Linked DNA regions of Homo sapiens: region 1 is linked to region 2. The links come from fine-mapping of genetic effects on gene expression. A gene starts in region 2. The other region holds a variant in brackets. All regions are shown on one strand. Distances are between the middles of the regions. Region 1 overlaps SAE1 (SUMO1 activating enzyme subunit 1). Region 2 holds the start of SAE1 (SUMO1 activating enzyme subunit 1).

Evidence for each region. PIP is the estimated chance that this variant, and not a neighbour inherited with it, causes the effect.
Region 1: its variant is the best candidate, but not a certain one, in a credible set for the expression of SAE1 in whole blood (INTERVAL, PIP 0.50).

What each region holds. Positions count from the first base shown.
Region 1 is chr19:47,188,399-47,196,724 of GRCh38, reverse strand. The region is part of intron 6 of SAE1 (SUMO1 activating enzyme subunit 1); the gene reads right to left. Among named protein-coding and RNA genes, the nearest start is that of MIR3190, 34 kb to the left of the region's middle. RefSeq lists an enhancer at 6,869-7,635. The variant G/A (reference allele first, on the strand shown) is at 3,356.
Region 2 is chr19:47,126,046-47,134,371 of GRCh38, reverse strand. It overlaps SAE1 (SUMO1 activating enzyme subunit 1), which reads right to left and starts at 3,537. Exons shown (of 9, transcript NM_005500.3): 1 at 3,344-3,537. The coding sequence starts at 3,441. RefSeq lists enhancers at 3,217-3,456, 3,149-3,763.

The DNA.
Region 1 (8,326 bases), 62 kb before region 2:
GAAGGGGGCAGAAAGCAGTGGAAGCTTTCAGTAGAGGAAAAAGGCTCTATTAAGACCTGGAAGAGCCGGGTGCGGTGGCTCACAGCTGTAACCCCAGCACTTTGGGAGGCCGAGGCAGGTGGATCACAAGGTCAGGAGTTCGAGACCAGCCTGGCCAACATAGTGAAACCCTGTCTCTACTAAAAATACAAAAATTAGCCAGGTGTGGTGACACGTGCCTGTAGTCCCAGCTACTTGGGAGACTGAAGCAGGAGAATCACTTGAATCCAGCAGGCGGAAGTTGCAGTGAACCAAGATTGTGCCACTGCAATCTAGCCTGGGTGACAGAGTGAGACTCCGTCTCAAAAAAGTAAAATTAAAAAAAAAAAAAAAAAAAAAAAAAAAAAAAAAAGCCAGGCGCGGTGGCTCACGCCTGTAATCCCAGCACTTTGGGAGGCCGAGGTGGGAGGATCACGAGGTCAGGAGTTTGAGACCAGCCTGACCAACATGGTGAAACCCCGTCTCTACTAAAAATATAAAAAAAATTAGCCAGGCACCTATAATCCCAGCTACTCGGAAGGCTGAGGCAGGAGAATCGCTTGAACCCAGGAGGCAGAGGTTGCAGTGAGCCAAGATCGTGCCACTGCACTCCAGCCTGGGCAACAGAGCGAGACTCCGTCTGGGAAAAAAAAAAAAAAAAAGACCCGGAAGAGGCAGAGTGTGATGGCACACATCTGCAATCCCAACACTTTGGGGGGCCAAGGCGTGAGGATCGCTTGAGCCCAGGAGTTTGAGATAATCCTGGGCAACATAGTGAGACCTCACTGCTACCAAAAAAAAAAAAAAAATTTAGCCAAGTATGGTGGTGCCTGTAGTCCCAGCTACTAAGGAGGCCAAGGCAGAAGATCACTTGAGCCCAGAAGGTCAAGGCTACATGAGCAGAGATCTCATCACTGCACTCCAGCCTGGGTGACAGAGTGAGACCCTGTCAAAAAAAAAAAAAAAAAAAGAAGAAAAAAAGGAAAGGAAAAGGAACAAAGGGAAGGAAGAAGCGAAGGGGAAGGGGAAGGGAAAGGGAAAGGGGAAGGGACCTAGAAGAGAGATGATAAGGAGTGGGAGGTACACATTCTAGGCAGGACCAGTTTAAAGCCTGCTTTAGCCAGAAGGGCCAGCCATATACTTAGACCCATCAAACAGGAAGGTCATTACAAACAAAACTTCCTTTACTATGAAAACTATCTCAATCCCCATAAATGGATGTTTAATTTTGGTTGTGAACCAGAGGAAAGGTTCAGATGATGGCTGTGAGTCAGAACTACTGTGTAAGAAGACCCCAACAAGGCTATAACTTTTATCCCAAATAAAGACAAATAGGAGCAAAAGACTAATTAGGCTGGGTGCAGTGGCTCACGCCTGTAATCCAAGCATTTTGGGAGGCCAAGGCGGGTGGATCATCTGAGGTCAGGAGTTCGAGACCAACCTGGCCAACATGGTGAAACCCGGTCTCTACTAAAAATACAAAAATTAGCCAGGCGTGGTGGCAGGCACCTGTAGTCCCACTTAGTCAGGAGGCTGAGGCAGGAGAATCGCTTGAACCCGGGAGGCAGAGGTTGCAGTGAGCCGAGATCGTGCCACTGAACTCCAGCCTGGGCAACAGAGTGAGACTTCATCTCAGAAAAAAAAAAAAAAAGACTGGCCAGGTGTGGTGGCTCACGTCTGTAACGTCTGTAATCCCAGCACTTTGGGAGGCCGAGGCAGGCAGATCACGAGGTCAGAAGTTAGAGACCAGCCTGGCCAACATGGTGAAACCCCGTCTCTACTAAAAAAATACATAAATTAGCCAGGCGTGGTGGCGCACGCCTGTAGTCCCAGGTACTTGGGAGGCTGAAGCAGAAGAATCACTTGAACCTGGGAGGTTGCAGTGAGCTGAGATCGCGCCACTGCACTTTGCCTGTGCGATAGAGCGTAACTCCATCTCAAAAAAAAAAAAAAAAAAAAGACTGATTAACATACCAACACCTTCTAACTGCCCACTACACCTTGTCCACAGGTAACCTGCCTGCGGGCGGGCAGGCATTCTTGTTCCCTACATACTGCCCAAGGAAAGGGCACAGCCAGTCTCGAGCCTTGTCTCTAAGGACAATACTCTTTCTCCCACATCACACAGGCTATTTCAGAACAGACACAGAGACATGGATCAGCTTCTAGGCCCAAGCCCTGAGTGCTTTACACCTGGAGAGGGGGCTTTACAGTTTGTCAGTTCTTTCATTGATATCTCTTCCGTATATGTTGATTGAAAAAGTAGACTTATTCAGCAAATTATACTCTCTACCAGGACAAGGGTTCCTACATAAAAATTAAGGTAAATTCAAGTTGCTGTGAGGCTCTTTAAAAAATACAAGTATTTGGTACCCACCCCAGACTGAAGCATCAGAGTCACACTTTTTAAAGACCAAATAGTTTTGGTAATGAGCAGCCTGTGTTGAGGGCCATTCTCTAAGTAGAATTCATTCACTCCACCAGCCTGGCACTTACTTTGTGCCAGACAGACCTGGGTGCTAAAGGTCCAATGGCGAGTGAGTGAATCTTGGTCTCTGCATCTGTGAAGGCAATGGGTGGGAGAACAACTGAGGAGGACACAGTTTTAGAAGCTACAACAGGTGGCTCCACTGAAGCCTGGGAGACGTTCAGAAATGGGTTATAAAGTGTTCCAAGAAGATCTCAAACCACAGATGCCCAGGTAAAAAAAAAAGACACACCCTGCTTCTGGGCTATGCTTTTCTCAGTGCCAATGTCAGACAAAGGCCCCTGGCCTGTATTTCTCTGGTAACTTCCACCTGTCCAGTATAGACGGGGCTCTGCATATCAGAGAAGAGGTAATTTCTTTTTCTTTTTCTTTTCTTTCTTTTTTTTTTTTTTTGAGACAATCTTGCTCTGTTGCCCAGGCTGGAGTGCAATGGCGTGATCTCGGCTCAATGCAACCTCCACCTCCCGGGTTCAAGCCATTCTCCTGCCTCAACCTGCCAAGTAACTGGGGATTACAGGTGCCTGCAGCCACACCCAGCTAATTTTTTGTATTTTTAGTAGAGATGGGGTTTCACTAAAAATAGAAAAATTCCTGGTCTCAAGTTCCTGACCTCAGGTGATCCTCCCACCTTGGCCCCCCAAAGTGCTGGAATTACAGGCGTGAGCCACAGCACCCAGCTGGTAATTTCTTTAAAAAAAAAAAGGAAAGAAAAGAAAAAAGCTCCAGAACACCCATTGACTCTTCTGAATACTGTTTGCTTTCTGAGAATGTTACTCTCTTCTCTTTTTCAAGAACACAGCTTCTGCAACCCTCAATGCTACCTCAACACTTGGCAGTCAACTCAAAGCT[G/A]TAACAATTGGCCAGGTGTGGTGGCTCATGCCTGTAATCCCAGCACTTTCAGAGGCTGAGGCAGGTGGATCACCTGAGGTCAGGAGTTCAAGACCAGCCTGGCCAACACAGCGAAACCCCATCTCTACTAAAAATACCAAAAAAATTAGCCGTGCATGGTGGTGGGTGCCTGTAATCTCAGCTACTCGGGAGGCTGAGGCAGGAGAATCTCTTGAACCCGGGAGGTGGAGGTTGCAGTGAGCCGAGATTGTGCCACTGCACTCCAGCCTGGGCGACAGAGCAAGACTCTGTCTCCAAAAAAAAAAAAAAAAAGGCTGTGACCATCTAGACGATCTGGATGCCAGAGAGCACTGATCTGCTACCACCCAATACTTCTACTTTTGTAGATGTCCTGCTGGTATTCCGATTGTAGTAAATAAATGCAACTGAGTAACCATTTTGGGGCAGGGTAGAGAAATGACTGCAGAAGTGGCAAGTACTGCCTGTTTGGACCAAGCCTCTTTTCAAAAAATGTCCCATAAAATAAAGGAGGCCAGGTGCAGTGGCTCACACCTGTAACCCCAGCACTTTGGGAGGCTAAGGTGGGCAGATCACTTGAGGTCAGGAGTTTGAGACCAGCCTGGCCAACATGGTGAAACCCCATCTCTACTAAAAATAGGAAAATTAGCCGAAAGTGTGGTGGGTGCCTATAATCAAGTACTTGGGAGGCTGAGGCAGTAGAATTGCTTGAACCCAGGATTCAGAGGTTGCGGTGAGCCGAAATCACACCGCTGCACTCCAGTCTGGGCTACAGAGAGAGGCTGTCTCAAAAAATAAATTAAGTAGCCGGGCATGGTGGCTGATGCCTGTAATCCCAGCACTTTGGGAGGCCAAGGCGGGTGGATCACGAGGTCAGGGGTTCAAGACCAGCCTGGCCAAGATGATAAAACCCCATCTCTATTAAAAATACAAAAATTAGCTGGGCATGGTGGCGGACGCTTTTAATCCCAGCTACTCGGGAGCCTGAGGCAGGAGTCGCTCAAACCCAGGAGGCAGAGGTTGCAGTGAGCCGGTATCGTGCCACTGCAATCTAGCCTGGGTGACAGAGCGAGACTCTGTCTCAAAACAACAACGACGACAACAACAACAACAACAAACCAGTAGGAAGGGTGATAATAATTACCCGCTCACCAGGTTATCGTGAAGATCACATGAGTGCTAAGCCATGTGAAATGTTTAGTATAGTGCCTGACACATAGTAGGCACTATAACGCTTTGGGCTTTGGTGCTCCCAAAGCTATATTTTCTTTCTCTCTCTTTTTTCTTTTTTTTTTTTTGAGACAGAGTCTCGCTCTGTTGCCCAGGCTGGAGTGCGGTGGCGCGATCTCGGCTCACTGCAAGCTCCGCCTCCCGGGTTCACGCCATTCTCCTGCCTCAGCCTCCCGAGTAGCTGGGACTACAGGCGGCCATCACCACGCCCGGCTAATTTTTGTATTTTTAGTATAGACGGGGTTTCACCGTGTTAGCCAGGATGGTCTCGATCTCCTGACCTTGTGATCGGCCCGCCTTGGCCTCCCAAAGTGCTGGGATTACAGGTGTGAGCCACCGCGCCCGGCCTATTCCCACAGCTATGTTTTCAAACCAAAAGATGAAAAGCTTTGTGGTAACAGCTGAAAAAAAAAATCACCTCCTCTTGTTGGTCCCTTGTGACAGTTGGTGCTTGTGTCCCAGTAACAAAGAAATAAGATCGCACAAGAGTCATCTAGCACAGGGTTCCTGCCACTGTCCATCACCTTGCACCTGGAAAGCAGGCAGCCTCAGTTTCCACGTGACTGCTGCAAGGCCTCAGACTGTGCCCTATAAGCAGCCCATGCACAGCTTTGCCTCCATCTGCTCAGGCAGTGTTGATACCCTTTCTGGGTCTTGTTGCCCTGTTCTCTCAGGAGTGACTGACAGGACTAGCGTTTAACATTTGATGCAATATCCTCTGCTTTGGCTATACTAACAGATGGCTGGATTCCTTTATTTTTATTCATTTATTTACTTGTTTTTGTTTTTCTTCTTTTTTTTTGAGATGGAGTCTCACTCTGTCACCCAGGCTGGAGACGCCCACAACCACGCCCAAATAACTTTTGTATTTTTACTAGTGACGGGGCTTCACTATGTTGGCCAGGCTGGTCTCGAACTTCTGACCTTAAGTGATCCTCCTGCCTCAGCCTCCCAAAGTGCTGGGATTATAGGCATGACCCACTACGCCCAACCTACCCATCCTACTTTACAGATCAGGAAACTGAAGTTCAGAAACATTAAATGACTTGGTCACTGTAACTCCCAAGTACTGGAGCAGAAATGTAAACTCAAATCTAGCTTCAGAATTTGTGCTTCTTAACCCTAATGGAATCCAAAAGAAACAGCAGGTCCATACAGGGACACAGCACCTAGGATTCCAAGTGGTCTGGTTCTTTGCCACCCACCTCAGGGGATCCCCCATTTGATCAAGTTTTTGTCAAATGCATTTTTCCAGATGGGCCTCGCCTCTGTTAATTTCAAGCTGTAAGTTCAGTGGGTGAGAAGTGGAGACCGTGGTCATATAAAACTTTGCCCATCAATCTTGAGAGAGTAAACCAGCTTCCTCTTAGGAAGAAATAGGACAGCATTAAGAGCAGGAGCAAAGGCGGCAGCAGCTGACCCCGCTGTTTCTCTGGGACCCTTGCCTGTTCCTGGTGCAGTTTGGCTGGACGAGGGCCGGCAGGCTGGCACCATCCACATACCTCGCTGACCACATCTGAAGTCCTTGCAGGGCCTCTGGGAAGGGGGCCAATCAGTCCAGCCACTTACTTGCAGCAAAACAAACAGAAGCTGTCTTTTTTCACTCTTTCTCGAAGGTCAGACTCCAGTTAGCAGCAGTGGAGGGGGGCAGGAAGAAAGCCATGTTCTTGACAGGCAGCAGCCTCAGAACTGACCCTAGCCCCTGACAAGTTCTCGCTTATTAAATTCTCCTTTGTTCTGCTTTCCGCCCCGCCCCAAGAGCCAAACACGCACACATACCACTGTTGACTGCATTTCTGAAGAGCACCTCCCACCAGTTTACACATTATAAAACTGTTCCGTTAAGATCAAACACTGTCAGGGATAGAGAGGTGCTCTACCAAAAGATGACTCATCAAATCGTATCAAAACACTGCACAAAATTAGAGTTCCAAACTTGATTAACTTCATCTGCACCTTTTAATTAACTCAGGATGCTGAAGTCTGGGGGGATGACATTCATTGCTGGAGATGATGGACTAGTGTCTCGGCTTAGGTTCAGGACTTGCCCATGTAATGGAAAAGGCAAACTTTGGAAAAGAGAAACCAAGCACGGTTTCACGTTATTTATAGAAAAAACTGTGGATATGTGAATATACAACCACCTTTACAAAATAATGTAAGCACTCAAATTCAAATTTAATCTCAGTTCATAACATCAGGTTAGCGCTATAACGGGAATCTGGACAGCAACATTATTAATCACTGTTTGTTACATAAACTTCTATTACATTTAACTATTATGCCTAAATCTAATCACCAAGGCCACCGAATAAACCAGTACTTTAGTAGGAAGAAAATAAAGTCACTGTCACAAATTAGCCCCTAATTGCTGGCCCCCAAAAACAGTTCAATTGTGGGGGGCAGGGGAGTTGAATCTATATCAAAACTTCATTTACCTGAGACAGGCCCAAAGCTTTTCTGTGCCAGACACCTCGGCCCCAATTCCCTGGCTCCCTGCAGCTGAACGTAGACTCCTCCCCAGGGTTGGCTCACTTTTGTTTTTTTTGTTTGTTCGTTTTAAGACAGAGTCTCGCTCTGTCACCCAGGCTGGAGTGCAGTGGCGCGATCTTTGCTCACTGCAACCTCCGCCTCCCAGGTGCAAGCGATTCTACTGCCTCAGCCTCCTGAGTAGCTGGGATTACAGGCACGCACCACTACGCCCGGCTCATTTATATACATATTTTTTAGTAGAGATGGGGTTTCACCATGTTGGTCAGGCTGGTCTCAAATTCCTGACCTCGTGATCCGCCTGCCTCAGCCTCCCAAAGCGCTGGGGTTACAGGCGTGAGCCACTGCGCCCAGCCCCCAGGTTGGCTCACTTTATGGAGAGTCGCTATCTCTGGAAACAGCCTGGTAATCTGCTCCACTCCCAGGTGACATAAATTTCCAGAAAAATTGCAAAGTATGGTAGTACTACCTCTTATCCAACAGCCTGTTTCCTAAGGCAAAGCCCTGGGCCTGACATTCAGTCAATTGTTCATTCAATAAATATACACTGAGCAATGACTGTGCCAGGTGCTGGGCTGGGCAGGCGAGGGCAGAATGGATGGTCTACCCTCTCACAGCATTTCAGAGGGCAATCAACAAAAACTACACAGGAGATAACAATGTCCTAACTCGAAAAGGGGCTTTGAGAGAGCCTCAGGGGGGTGCAATGAGGTGCCTTGTCAAGTGACCAGGCCCTCCACAGTTGGCAGAACCACCTCAGTCCTCATAGTCTCTGAATATTTGCCTGTCCCGTCCTCTGTACCTTCTCTCTGCAAAGCCTGTCCCTGGCCTGGACAGCTTTCCAACTGGAGGGCAGCAGCGAAGAGCACAGCTCTAGACTCCCTATTCTTCCACTTACTGTGACCTTGGGCAAGTGACAAGGACCCTGAGCCTCCTCTGCAAAATGGGAATCCCAAGGGCACTTGTGGGGTTTAAAGATTAAATGAACCAATACATGTAAAGCACCCAAGAGTGCCTGGGGCAGTATCTTCCAGGTCTGTCACTGCTCTTAAGCAAAGTCCAGAAACCCAGCTCACACTCGCCCTAGAAAAGCCGATACACTTGCTGTGGTAACCTGTGTCACACAGTAGCTCATTTACCTGCATTACCATTAATTCAGCTGTGGGCTCTGGACACGATACTGCCTCAGATCTCCCTGTCTCCTGACATTCACTCCCAGCACAGTTTTTTCCC
Region 2 (8,326 bases):
CTGAGGTAATTCCCATCCCACCACTGCACCCTCTAAAACCTTCTGAAAGCTCCCACCCCCTCAAACTAAATTCTCCTGACGTGTCTGCCTCCCCAACCCCTCCATTAATTCTATACTCTGTACTCACACAATACCCACCATCACCCAAATTTTACCTCTGAACTCAACCCCTCACATATTTCTACTTAGTTGTATAAAAAAACAAATCTGAGGCCGGGCATGGTGGCTCACACCTGTAATCCCAGCACTTTGGGAGGCCGAGGCAGGTGGATCACGAGGTCAGGGGTTCAACACCAGCCTGACCAACACGGTGAAACTCCGTCTCTACTAAAAATACAAAAATTAGCTGGGCATGGTGGCGGGCGCCTGTAATCCCAGCTACTCGGGAGGCTGAGGCAGGAGAATTGCTTGAACCTGGGAGGCAGAGGTTGCAGTGAGCCGAGACCATGCCACTGCACTCCAGCCTGGGCGACAGAGTGAGACTCCGTCTCAAAAAAAAAAAAAACAAACAAAAAAAACAAATCTGAAACCTAAAAGAGAACTGACTCTTCCCCGACCCCACCAAACCTACAGCTCTCCATATCTTTCAAAATGGCAATTCCATCGTTCCAGGTAGGTGCTCAAGCCAAAAACAGTGGTGTCATCCTGGACTTCTGCCCCAAATTCTGTTCCCTCTTCTACCTTCAAAATATATCCAGAATATATTTATTTGACCCCTTCTCTTGAGTTTCAAGCCACCAATATTTTTATCTCAACTGGATTACTGCAACAGTCCAGCCAGAATCTTTACTTCCATTTCTGACCACTTTAACCTATTCTGGAGCGATCATTTTAAAACACAAACCAGGCCAGGCCGCAGTGGCTCACGCCTGTAATCACAGCACTTTGGGAGCCCAAGGCAGGCGGATCACGAGGTCAGGAGATCGAGACTATCCTGTCTAACATGGTGAAACCCCGTCTCTACTAAAAATACTCAAGATTAGCCGGGTGTTGTGGCACATGCCGATAGTCCCAGCTACTCAGGAAGGTGAGGCAGGAGAATCGCTTGAACCTGGGAGGCGGATTCACTGCAATGGCAGTGAGCCGAGATCGTGCCATTGCACTCCAGCCTGGGCCACAGAGCAAGACTCCGTCTCAAAAAACAAACAAAAAACAGATCATGTTACTCCCACACTCAAAACACTCCAACAGGTTTTCCCACACACTTAGAATAAAAGCTACTCCTCAAATCATTTGGTTCCTGCCACCTTATTTCTCTAATTTGACAATCATGCCTGGGCCTCTGGGAATTTGCACTTGCTGTTCTCTTAGCTAGGAAAGTTCTCCCAGATGACCACAGGGCTCTTTCCCATATAAGTCTGAGGCTCAATGTTACCTCTTCAGAGCCCTTCCCTGGCCAACCTATCAAAACAACCCTCTCACTTCACCATCCTTTAATAACTGACACATATACACACGCTTGTGGATTTTTTTTTTTTTTTTGAGACGGGGCCTCACTCTGTCACCCAGGCTGGGGTGTAGTGGTGTGATCATGGCTCACTGCAACCTCCACCTCCCAGGGGCTCAGGTGATGCTCCCACCTCAGTCTCCTGACAAGCTGGGACTATAAACTTATGTCACCATGCCTGGCTAATTTTTGTATTTTTTTGTAGAGACTGGGTTTGGCAACATTACCCAGGCTAGTCTCAAACTCCTGGGCTCAAGAGGTCCCCTCCCCCCAACTCAGCTTCCCAAAGTGCTGGGATTACAGGTGTGAGTCACTGCGTCCAGGCTAAGTAAAAATATTGATCAATGAGGCCAGGCATGGTAGCTCATGCCTGTAATCCCAGCATTTTAGGAGTCTGAGATGGGGGGAGATCTCTTGAGGCCGAGGATCGCTTGAGCTTGGGAGTTCAAGACCAGTCTGGGCAACATGGCAAAACCCCATCCTACAAAAAAAAAAAAAAACAAAAATTAGTCGGATGATGTGGTGGGGCACGCCTGTAGTCCCAGCTACTTGGGAGGCTGAAGAGGGAATATCCCTTGAGCCTTGGAGGTTGAGGCTACAGTGAGCTGTGATCCCACCACTGCACTCCACTGGGCCACAGAGAAAGAAAAAAAAAAAAAACAAGCTGGGCACAGTGGCTCACGTCTGTAATCCAACCACTTTGGGAGGCTGTGGCGGGCAGATCACTTGAGGTCCGGAGTTTGAGACCAGCCTGGCCAACATGGTGAAAACCCATGTCTACTAAAAATACAAAAATTAGCCAGGCATGGTGGCGCGAGCCTGTAATCCCAGCTACTCAGAAGACTGAGGTGAGAGGAAGTCTTGAACCCGGGAGGCCAGAGGCTGCAGTGAACCGAGGTCACCCAACTGCACAAAACAAAAGACGTCCTGGCGCGGTGGCTCACTCCTGTAATCCCAGCACTTCAGGAGGCCGAGGCGGGTGGATCACTTGAGGTAAGGAGATCGAGACCAGTCTCGTCAATATGGCGAAACCCCGTGTCTACTAAAAATACAAAAATTAGCCGGGCGTGCTGGCGGGCCCCTATAATCCCAGCTACTCGGGAGGCTGAGTTAGGAGAATCGCTTGAATCCGGGAGGCAGAGGTTGCAGTGAGCCGAGATCGCGCCACTGCCCTCCAGCCTGGGCGACAGAGAGAGACTATCTCAAAAAAAAAAAAAAAAAAAAAAAGAATTCCCTAAGCTACTCCACAATGCCCAAACTACGTCTCCTGTCCTATCAAGACACAGCCCCATACCAAACACAAGCAACCTTTTCGGGAGCCTACGGCCGTCCCCCTCCAGCCTCTCCGAGCCTCTCAAGATTCCCATTTGAGATAACTTGCTCCAAAACTCCTCAAAACCCGCATTCTCTCAGACTGGCCCGCCCGTGAGCTCCCACAAGAGTGTAAGCTCCCGTCTGTCCGGTTGGCCAGTCCAGTCTCCCCTGTGTGCAGCACGGAACCAGGTCCCATACCCTCGAATGAATGAACTGCGTCCCTCACCTCACCCTTTCCACGTATCCCCAGCCCCTCTTATCCCCTAACCGCGATCAAACCCCACAATCACCGCTTTCGGGCCTCGGATTTCCTGAGTTTGAATTCTCCCGCTCTCTCAGGACTCCCCAACGCCCCCTTCAGAGCTCCCATCCTTCGGAACGGCCCTCCCAACCACTTCCCAGACCTTCCAGAAACATCCCCAATCAACTCCTCCAGTCCCCCCAAGAGAGAGACGATCCCAGAGCACAGAATTCCCGCCTCCTCCCTTCAAATCACACCTTCCCGCTCCTTCCGGGCCGCAAACGCCTCAGAATAGACGCCCCCTCCAGACCCTAGCGGCCTCAAGCCGCGCCGGCCCTGACCGTTTCTGGGCCTCCAGTCCCCACAGGCGGATCTGCCGGTCATACTGTGCCGCCTCCTCCTCGCTAATGCCGCCGCCAGCCTCCTCCTTCTCCACCATGGCGCCGGCTCTTCCTGCCTCAGCTCCGGTCCCGCTCAAGCCAACCGCCCGCCGGACCCGCGCGCCACCTACCGCCGCCGGCAGCACGCCCGGAGTGCTTCTGCGCATGCGCAGACCCTCCCACGCCTGCGCAGTACCTCGTCCGCGGAGCCTGGGACCAAAAGTACCTCACGAGACTCAAAGGCGATCCGGCGACTGCATGTCACGTGACGGAGGGTCCAACCAATCCTAGCCCCAAAAATGGCGCGGCTTAAGGCCCCGAGGGCGTTGCCCACGTGGTCACTTATGTGGCACTTAAATTCTGCAAATATTTAAGGAGTGCATACTGAGATCCCAGCAATAGGGATGTTGTAAAATAACGGTATTGAGTGAAATCGACAAAGCCCTGTCCTCATGGAGTTTACGATCCAGTGAGAAAAGCCCGAAGAGAAATAAATATAAACCCAGCGATGATAAATGCTTTGGAGAAAAATAAAGCAGGACATGGGGCTACAGAGTAACAGGGGTGGTCAGGGAAGGCTTATCAGAGGTGACATTGAACTGTCAATTTTTTTTTTTTTTTTTCATAGAGATGGGGTCCCTCTGTTGCCTAGGCTGGTCTCCAACTCCTGGCCTCAAGCCATCCTCCCGCCTCTGCCTCCCAAAGTGCTGGGATTACAACCATGAGCCACTGTGCCCAGCCTTTCATGTCCCTACTATGTGTTGCACTTTGTGCCCAGCCCTGGACATACAATAATAATAAAAATGAACACATCTCTGCCTTAGAGGCAGTCACGGCCCAGTGGGAGAGAGGAGCGTTAAGAAAACAGGAATAGGCCAGGCACGGTGACTCGCACCTGTAATCTCAGCACTTCGGAAGGCCAAGGCAGGCAGATTACTTTAAATCAGGAGTTGGAGACCAGCCTGGCTAATGTGGTGAAATCCCGTCTTTAGTAAAAATAAAAAAATTAGCAGGGCATGGTGGCTCACACTTGTAGTCCCAGCTACTTGGAAGGCTGAGGTAGGATAATTGCTTGAATCCGGGAGGCGGAGGTTGTAGTAAGCCAAGATCATGCCTCTGCACTCCAACCTGGGTAACAGAGCAAGACTCTGTAAAAAAAAAAAAAAAAGAAAGAAAGAAAGAAAGGAAGGAAGGAGGGAGGGAAAGAGAGAGGGAAAGGAAGGAAGGAAGGGAAAAAAAAAAAAAACCAGGGATGGCCCCAGGTGGTCAATATAGGGAAACGCTATCTCTATTAAAAATACAAAAATTAGCTTGGTGTGGTGGTACTGAGTCTATAGTCCCAGCTACGTGGGAGGCTGAGGTGGAAGGATTTCTGATGTTAGAATCATAGGCTTTTTGGCAGGGCACAGTGGCTCATGCCTGTAATCCCAGCACTTTGGGACGCCAGGGAGGGCAGATCACGAAGTCAGGAGTTCGAGACCAGCCCGGCCAAGATGGTGAAACCCCCATCTCTACTAATACTAAAAAATTAGCCGGGCGTGGTGGCACACGCCTGTAGTCTCAGCCAATTGGGAGGCTGAGGCCGGAGAATCGCTTGAACCTGGGAGGCAGAGGTTGCAGTGAGCCAAGATCCTGCCACTGCACTCCAGCATGGATGACAGAGACTCCCGTCTAAAAAAAAAAAAAAAAAAGCCACCATGCCCACCTAACTTTTGTATTTTTAGTAGAGACAGGGATTGCACCATGTTGGCCAGGCTGGTCTCGAACTCCTGAACTTGTGATCCACCCGCCTCGGCCTCCCAAAGTGCACGGATTACAGGTGTGAGCCACCATGCCTGGCGGAATCATAGATTTTTATTTAAGAATTGCTTAGGCCGGAGGTGGTGGCTCACGCCTGTAATCCCAGCATTTTGGGAGGCAGAGGTGGGCGGATCACGAGGTCAGGAGTTCGAGATCAGCCTGGCTAACATGGTGAAACCTTGTCTCTACTAAAACTACAAAAAATTAGCCGGGCGTGGTGGCAGGCGCATGTAGTCCCAGCTACTGAGGAGGCTGAGGCAAGAGAATAGCATGAACCTGGGAGATGGAGCTTGCAGTGAGCCGAGTTCGCGCCACTGCACTCCAGCCTGGGCAACAGAGCAAGACTCCGTCTCAGAAAAAAATAAATAAATAAATAAATAAATAAATAATAAGAATTGCTTAGCGCCCGGCATGGTGGCTCATGCCTGTAATCCATGCGCTTTAGGAGACTGAGATAGGAAAATCACTTGAAGTCAGGAGTTCATGACCAGCCTGGGCAACATGACAAGACCCCTGTCTCTACAAAAAAAAAAATTTTTTAATTAGCTGGGTGTGGTGGTGCGTGCCTGTAATCCCAGCTACTTGGGAGGCTAAGGTGGAAGGATCCTTTGAGCCCAGGCGTTAGAGGCTGCAATGAGCTATGATGGCACCACTGCACTCCAGCCTGGACAACAGACCTTGTCTCAAAAAAAAAAAAAAAAAAAAAAAAGCTTAAGATATTTTTCAGATCCTGAATTCCAGCAAAACAGCTGATACCAACCAGTGTGAAGACCCCGCAGAGGAACCAAATCGACAGGAGAATAGAGTTTCTTCAACTCCCTGTTTCATTACTTCACCCTGCACACTTCAACCAACCAATGACCTCCACACTTCAACCCACTCCAAAACCCTTAAAAAGCCCCGAACTCCCTGGGGAAGTGGATTCGTGGTTCCTTCCATCTCCTCTCTTGGTTTTCAGTGGCCCCTATGATTAAACCTCTTTCTCTGCTGCAACCTGGGGTCTCCTACTATTGACTTGCTGCAAGCATTGGGGGGAAGGACCTATTATGATGGAAAAGCTTTCAATAGGCCAGGCACTGTGGCTCATGTCTGTAATCCCAACACTTTGAGAGGATCACTTGAGGCCAGGAGTTTGAGGCTGTCAAACACAGCCAGACCCCGTCTCTACAAAAAAATATAAAAATTAGGCCGGGCACAGTGACTCATACCTGTAATCCCAGCACTTTGGGAGGCATGGACGGGAGGATCACCTGAGGTCAGGAGTTAGAGACCAGCCTGGCCAACATGGTGAAACCCCATCTCTACTCAAAATACAAAAATTAGCCGAGTGTGGTGGTGTGCGCCTGTGATCCCAGCTACCCAGGAGGCTGAAGGCGGAGAATCACTTGAACCCGGGAGGTGGAGTTTGTAGTGAGTGGAGATCTTGCCATTGCACTCTAGCCTGGGCAACAGAGCGAGACTCTGTCACAAAAATAAATAAATAAATAAAATAAAGATTAAAAATTAAAGTTCTGATTCCAAAGTTTTTTGCACTTTGGTGTGCCACTTCCTAATCTCCGGGGAAAATGCCAGTTACAAGATCAAATAACCACTTTGTGCAGGAAACGACATTTAGAATTCAGAGAATGACCCAGCTGCAAAGGGCTGTGTCAAGTATCTTTTAGATAAGCCTCTGAAAATAAAGTGCTGTTTAGTTGCCTTATATTATTAAAGGAAAATGTACATGGATTATAGAAAGAAAAATAGAGGCCAGGCACGGTGGCTCATGCCTGTAATACCAGCACTTTGGGAGGCCGAGGCGGGCGGATCACCTGAGGTCGGGAGTTCGAGACCATCCTGACCAAAGTGGAGAAACCCCATCTCTACTAAAAATACAAAATTTTAGGCATGGTGCCGCATGCCTGTAATCCCAGCTACTTGGGAGGCTGAGGCAGGAGAATCGCTTGAACCTGAGAGGTGGAGGTTGCAGTGATCCGAGATTGTGCCATTGCACTCCAGCCTGGGCAACAAGAGCAAAACTCTGTCTCAAAAGAAAGAAAGAAAGTAATCCTGGGCTGGGCGCGGTGGCTCACGCCTGTAATCCCAGGACTTTGGGAGGTCAAGGTGGGTGGATCACAAGGTCAGGAGTTCGAGACCAGCCTGGCCAATATGGTGAAACCCGGTCTCTACTAAAAATACAAAAAAATTAGCCAGGCGTGGTGGCACATGCCTGTAATCCCAGCTACTCGGGAGGCTGAGGCAGGAGAATTGCTTGAATCCGGGAGGCAGAGGTTGCAGTGAGCTGAGATCGCGCCACTGCACCCCGGTCTGGGTGACAGAGCGAGACTCTGTCTCAAAAAAAAAAACAAAAACAAAACAAAAAAGAAAGTAATCCTGAAGGTCCATGGCATATAGTAATTCGTAATTGGTTAGGGAGTGACCCAGTGACCCAGGTTCTTACCTGTGACTATGCCATAACTCTTGTAAAATGATCACTTTGTTGGCCAGGCGCGGTGGCTCACGCGTGTAATCCCAGCACTTTGGGAGGCAGAGGCGGGCGGATCATGAGGTCAGGAGATCGAGACCATCCTGGCTAACACGGTGAAACCCCGTGTCTACTAAAAATACAAAAAATTAGCTGGGCATGGTGGCGGGTGCCTGTAGTCCCAGCTACTCGGGAGGCTGAGGCAGGAAAATGGTATGAACCCAGGAGGCAGAGCTTGCACTGAGCCAAGATAGCGCCACTGCACTCCGGCCTGGGCAAAAGAGCGAGACTCCGTCTCAACAAAAAAAAAAGAAAAGAAAAAGAGCCCTGAAAATAAAGCTAATTGCTGCATAAATTATTTTCTCCTGTACTTGCAGACTCATTGAAGGTCTAAAAGTGTCTCCCTTTCCTCTCTTCACTTCTACTTTTTATAGTTTCTGGGAAAAATTAAATGTGATGGTATAGTCTCATGTTTGGAAATATGCATCCTTTTAAAAAAACATTTTTATTGGCTGGGCCCGGGGGCTCACACCTATAATCCCAGCACTTTGGGAGGCCGAGGCAGGTGGATCACAAGGTCAGGAGATTGAGACCATGCTGGTCAACATGGTGAAACCCTGTCTCTACTAAAAATACAAAAAAATTAGCTGGGTGTGGTGGCGCATACCTGTAGTCCCAGC